Homo sapiens: one gene and its partner. The gene in region 1 interacts genetically with each later gene. Each region holds a gene or a part of one and is shown on either strand. Other genes may lie near its edges.

The links.
Region 2: changes in GAGE13 (region 1) and FLT3 together harm fitness less than expected from each alone (positive genetic interaction), as found in Homo sapiens cells (one study listed by BioGRID).

Annotation. Positions count from the first base shown.
Region 1 is NC_000023.11:49,334,565-49,337,330, forward strand, and holds part of GAGE13 (G antigen 13), read left to right. Parts: intron 1-1,682; coding exon 1,683-1,808; intron 1,809-2,766.
Region 2 is NC_000013.11:28,052,077-28,055,908, forward strand, and holds part of FLT3 (receptor-type tyrosine-protein kinase FLT3 precursor), read right to left. Parts: intron 848-3,832; exon of another isoform or gene 756-847; intron 599-755; coding exon 469-598; intron 1-468. UniProt on the Homo sapiens protein: Tyrosine-protein kinase that acts as a cell-surface receptor for the cytokine FLT3LG and regulates differentiation, proliferation and survival of hematopoietic progenitor cells and of dendritic cells.

The DNA of each region.
Region 1 (2,766 bases):
GTTTATCCTTAGATTGTCATTTAGGAGAAAGGTCTAAAGCTGGGCTGAATGCCATGCACTCATAGTCCCAGCTACTTGGGAGGCCGAGGTGAGAGGATTGCTTGAGTCCTGGAGTTCAAGCCCAGCCTGGGAAACACAGTGAGACCTCATCGCTAATAAATACATAAATGAATAAATAAATAAATACATAAATAAATTCATTAAATAAGTAAAGTTTTCATGGTATAGGAAAACACAGATGCAAAGTTTTTGTGCCTAGTGGCTGGTAATGTTGCAAACGTAACTCCTTAGTGAACTGTACCACTTAAAAATAGTTAAGATGGTAAATTTTAGGATATCTGTATTTTTTACCACAATTGGAAATTCCTTTCTTCCTAAAGTTCAGTGCAGTTATCATGTATTCTTTTAAATTTTTACTGTATGTATCTTCAAGACATAGCATTCATAGAAAATTTGCAAGAATAGTACAATGAACTCATATACTGTTCATCTGGATTCACCAATTGTTAATAGCTTTCGCTTCATCAGTTTCACATCTCTTCCCTCCGTCTCTTACCGTGCTGCCCACACACTCACACACACACACACACACATACATACGGATATATGTTTACTGTTATTAATGCTGAATTGTCTCGATAAAGTTTCAGGTATTATGGTCCTTTACCCTATGTACTTGAGGGTGTGTATATCGTCAGAACAAAGAGAAAGTCATTTCTTGGATCATCACTGCACAAAGATGAAAATCAGGAAATTTAACAATGAGAAAATGGAGTCATTTAATACAGAGTGCATACTCAAATTTTGCCAGTTCCCCAGAAAATTTCTTTTTTCCTTTTTTTTTTCTTTGTTGAGACGGAGTCTCTCTCTGTGGGCCAGGTTGGAGTGCAGTAGTGCGATCTCGGCTCACTGCAACCCACACCTCCCAGGTTCTAGGGATTCTCATGCCTCAGCCTCCCGTGTAGCTGGGACTACAGGCGCCGGCCACTGCGGGCTTGAACTTCTGGCCTCACCTGCTCTGCCCACCTTGGCATCCCAAAATGTTTGGATTGCAGGCGTGAGACCCCACGCCCGGCCCAGATAATTTTATTGATAGGATTTCTTTTTCTGATCCAGAGTCCAGTTCAGAATCACACCTTGCATGTGCTTTTCAGGTGTTTTTAGTTTCCTTTAACCTGTAATGTTTCCTTAATTTTTCTTGTCATTCACGATACGGACATTTTTGGAGAGGATAGACCAGTTGGTTTGCAGAATATTCTGCAGTTTGGGCTTTTTCATGTATTTTTAAAAGAGTTTTCTCACTCAGCGTTTATTGGTGGCTACTCATGCCATGTAAGAGTCTAAGCGCTAGGAGTGTAAGTGCTGTGAGAGACGGGATTTGAGCCTTGAGTCATTTAATACGAGAAGGACAATCAGAAGTAGAATAAGAGAGAAGTGCAAAGGAGGCAGCAAAGTTGTCTGAGGGCAGTCTTCGGAAAGGAAGAGGGTAATATTTGGAACACCTTGTTTTCCTGTTTTCTGCTAACGGACTCCTGAAATAATGTTCCTGGGATTCTTATCAACACATTTATTATTATGTTAGCTAAAGCTTTTATATAATAATACCGAGAGCGTGAATATTATTTTCTTATTCATGCGTTATGTTTTACTGCTTAAATTGATACGTATTTTTTATTTTTAAGGGCCGAAGCCTGAAGCTGATAGCCAGGAACAGGGTCACCCACAGACTGGGTGTGAGTGTGAAGATGGTCCTGATGGGCAGGAGATGGACCCGCCAAATCCAGAGGAGGTGAAAACGCCTGAAGAAGGTAGGCAATCCATTAGGCATGCACATTGTAGGGTGTCTGTTTCCACAGTATCATATTGTAAGTCTTACTATGTTTTTGAGACGGAGTCTCGCTCTGAAGACCAGGCTGGAGTGCAGTGGTGCCATCTCGGCTCACAGGAAATTCTGTCTCCAGGGTTCAAGTGATTCTCCTGCCTGAGCCTCTGGCGGAGCCGGGCTTACAGGCGGGCTCCGCCGCGCCCAGCTAATTGTTGTATTTTTAGTAGAGACAGGGTTTCGTTATGTTGCACAGGTTGTTCCCAAACTCCTGACCTCAGGTGATCCACCTGCCTCGACCATTGAAATTGCCGGGATTACAGGCGAGAGCCACCGTGCCCGACCCAGCATTATATTTTTAATAACAGAGAGGTAACAATACTGCGTCTTTAGTAACAGACTTCTTATATAAAGGTTATTTGAAACGTAGTTCAGGCCCCAGCACCCGACTGATAGACTGTCAGATAGGGAAACAAACTGAGTCAAAGCTATGTTGAATTAAAAGTTTTGAGTATAAATCCTTAAACCAGTAGCTCACAATTTTCAGATGCTTTTGTAAAGGTCTGCTTTTAATCAATACATAACACGTTTGTAACACCCATCACTTGGTGTGAAAAATGCTGAAGCACTCATGCGGGTTCTAATACCAGCTCTTACAGCCTTGGCGAGATTCTGAGTGAGTCCTTTCCCTTCTAAACCTATCTTTGGTTCTTATGAAAATAGTGAGTTTAAGTCAGAGACTTTAAAACCATTTTGCATTCCGTTTCTTTCATACTCTGATCCTGTTGCATAGAATGCGTGGGACACAGAGATCATCTGCTTCGCATGGTTTGTTAATCACAAATCATGAAACCCTGGCCCGAGTCATCTGAAAATCTCTGAATTGAGATTTCATTGTCAGTAAGACAGTGAGCGGGCCCTCTGCTTCATCCTAGTTTTTCCGT
Region 2 (3,832 bases), on another chromosome or scaffold:
TATTTTATTTTTTTAATTTTATTTATTTATTTTTTGAGACGGAGTTTCGCTCTTGTTGCCCAGGCTGGAGTGCAATGGCGTGATCTTGGCTCACCACAACCTTTGCCTCCCAGGTTCAAGAGATTCTCCTGCCTCAGCCTCCAGAGTAGCTGGTATTTTAGGTGCCTGCCACCACACCCAGTTAATTTTTTGTATTTTTAGTAGAGATGGGGTTTCACCATGTTGGCCAGGCTGGTCTCAAACTCCTGACCTCAAGTGATCTGTCCACCTTGGCCTCCCGAAATGCTGGGATTACAGGCGTGAGCCACTTCACCCGGCCCTATACTGGCCATTTTTTAACTTTAAGAAGCCAAAGTTTCCTGTTTAAATGAGCATAAATTAAATTTTACATACAGCTTGATGTCAACTACATTAGAAAAAGGCCAAAAGGAAATTATGAGAATAGCAGCTACCATGGATGTGTCATACCTTTCCCCCTGTGAATCGCAAAGCACCCATTCCACGATCGGCTCTGGAACGCTCTCAGATATGCAGACCAGGGCGTCCTGGTTTTCCATTTTTCTAAAGTAAGGTCTTCTTAATGTGTAAAGCAGGGTATCTAAAGCATCATAAGTTATTAACATTTTACTATTTTAAAAATAATTCTCTTAGCAGCCCCTCAGAAAAGGATTCTATGTCATTATGAAAAGTTCTCAACCATTACGTATACATATTTTTTTCTTTTTTCATAATAAAGGCATCAAAAGCAAACCAACCATTATATTAAATTTAGCTGTGGCTGCAGTGTCAACTTGAACATTTCTCCTCTTGGCCAATTTCTTTGGGTATTTCACAAATCCACAGCTAACTAAAGTAGTCGAGTGAAGCCATGTGAAAATACAAATATTGATAGGCACAGGAAAAAGGAAATTAGCAATAACATATGGCTTAAACCCTTGTTTAACACATAGTTTAGACCTCAACTTTCTTCCTATAATTTGATCTGCAACTAGGCAGAAATATACTAAGATTTAGAAAGACAGAAGAAACATGGTAGGGTGGAGTTGGAATTGCAACAGAACTTAAGAGGTTTAGTTGAGCCTCCCACTCACCCTGGATCACACACACACACACACACACACCATCCTTCACTCCCAGCTATTTCTAACATAAACTTTCTACTTCTACTTTGACTCTTCTAGAGACTGGAGTTCATGACCTCCCAGGGCAGGTCATTCTAATTTCTGACAAACTTTTTTTTTTTTAAAGAAAGTTTCCCTATACTGAATTCCAGCCTCTCTCCTTACAATAAATTTTGTTTGAAAATACTATGTACTGTTTGATATATATATATATATATGAAAGAATATATGGAGTGTAAATTTCAAAGCATAACAACAACAAATACCCACGGAGCCACTATCCACCTAATAACTAGAATATTAATAAATACCTTTTGATCTACTTTTATGCTTCTCCCCACCTCTCAACTGCACGTATCCTTTATCCTGAATTTTGTTGATTATTCGAGGACTCTTCAAAGTAGTTATACCAAATAAATATGTGGCACTAAACAATATATTGATTTTTTCATTCTTGAGCTTCAAAATAGTGTTATCAATCAATATGTAACTTCTACAACTTCATTTTTTCATCCAACCTTATGTTTTTAAAATTCATCCATGGTTTTACATGTAGCTATACTTTATTCATTTTTTTTTTTACTGCTACATAATATTCTATTGGTAAATATATCATTATTTTTTCATTTTCTTGCAGTAGACATTTGGGTTGTTTCCTTCCGTGTGTGTGTGTGAGACAGGGTCTCTGTCACCCAGGCTGGAGTGCAGTGGTGCAATCTCAGCTCACTACAGCCTCAACCTCCCAGGCTCAAGTGATCTTCCTGCCTTGGCCTCCCAAAGTGCTTGGATTACAGGTATGAGCCACCACACCCGGCCACAGTTTTTTGTATGATCAACCATGTGCTCTGAACATTCTACACATTTGTACTGAGGCATGTGTATAACAGTTTCCTTAATAACATTCTTAAGAGTGGAACTGCTGGTCTACATGGTATGAGCACATTCAGCCTTACACATAATGATCATTTGTTTTCCAAAGTGGTTATACTAATTTATGTTACACAGCAGGATATGAGAGCACCTATTGCTTTATAGACTTACCAAGACTTCTTAATTTTCAGCAATCCAGCAAGTATAAAATGGTATTTCATTGTGGTCTTAATTTAATTTCTCCATTATTAATTTAACATGTGTTAAAATAATTAATTGGGAGTCCATTAGGCTGAGACAACTCTAACAGCTTGAGTTCCTAGGTAAACAAATCACAACACAACTCAAAAAAAAAAAAAGGAAAAGAATAAAGGCCGGGCAAGGTGGCTCACGCCTGTAATCCCAGCACTTAGGGAGGGTGAGGCGGGAGGATCGCTTGAGCCCAGGAGTTCGAGACCAGCCTAGGTAACATGCCAAAACCCCGTCTCTACAAAAACAACAACAACAAAAAGCAAAAAACAAACCCAATTCAATATGAGCAGCAAAATGCAACTTAGCTTAATCAATGAGGAACTGCAAACTGACCAATCCAGGGACTGTCCTTCTTTAAACAATCAAATTTTTTCTTTGTCTTGCTTCCGGGAACACATTATAGAAAGAAGTCTTACCCTTGAATCTCCTCACTGGAGCCCACCTGCTTGCCATCTGGTACTGCCTGATTCATGAATTGCTTTCTGCTCAAATATACTCTTTACAACTTTAAAGTGCCTAAGTTTATCTTTTAACATGTTTCTTGACCATTTAGGTTTCATGTTCCAAAAATGAAATGCCTACTCATGTCCTTTGTTCATTGCTCTACTAGGTTTTCATTTTGTTCGTTTTTCTTATTGACTTATTGACTTATATAGATTGTTTATCTTATTGACTTTACATATTATGACTATTAATCCTTTGTTGATTGTGAACTGCAAGTATTTTTTCCCATCTTGAGGTGATTTTTACTTTTTCTCCCTGTAATTTCTAACAATTGGTTCTTATCATATCCTCTAGAGCAACTTTTTTAAAGTCTAGCTTTGATTCCATATGAAAATCTTTCAAATATTTAAAATCAGAAACCGAGATCAAGGGAGATAATTACCATACAAGGTACTTTAACTAGTTAGCTCAGGTTTCCTGACTCAAATCCCAAAAGAATTTCCTCTGCATTACACTGCAATCAATCTTATCGTCTCCTCAAAACATTTCCTTCTATATACTACACATTCCCAATTCCTTCAACTGCTCCTAATTTAAAGAATTCCAAGTTTTCCACTATCCTGGTTGCTCATTTTGTCAGTATTCATCTTTAAAAAAGTAGAACTGAAATGAATAAGCTTCTATTAATTTCCTTAATTTAGACGTTATATTTTCATGAACACTGCCAAGGTTCAAATTTACTTTTTTGGCAACCATGCCACGCTGGTGGTTAATACTGAGCTTGTGGTTGACTAAACCCTTTCCTCTTTTTCACACTGACTGTTGCCACATCTCTCCCACCTATTTTTTGGATCCCACCACCTTGCAGAATGCTAAAAATAAGTTATAATTTACCTGAATAACTGTTGTTACATTTTTACATTGTAAATCTTAAGTGAAAGGAATATACCCTAAGTATAACAGAGACACAGCAGATGCCCACTTACCTTATACAACTGTTTATACTTGGCAAGAAAATTTTAAAAGGAGAGAAAAAAGGAGAAAGAGGAAGAGAAGTAGAGAACAAGAAACGTCCTAGCTTCATCCAACCTGGGGCACGTATTTACTGTCCCACAGAGGCGGTGAGGGACTAGAAAGGGGGCAGG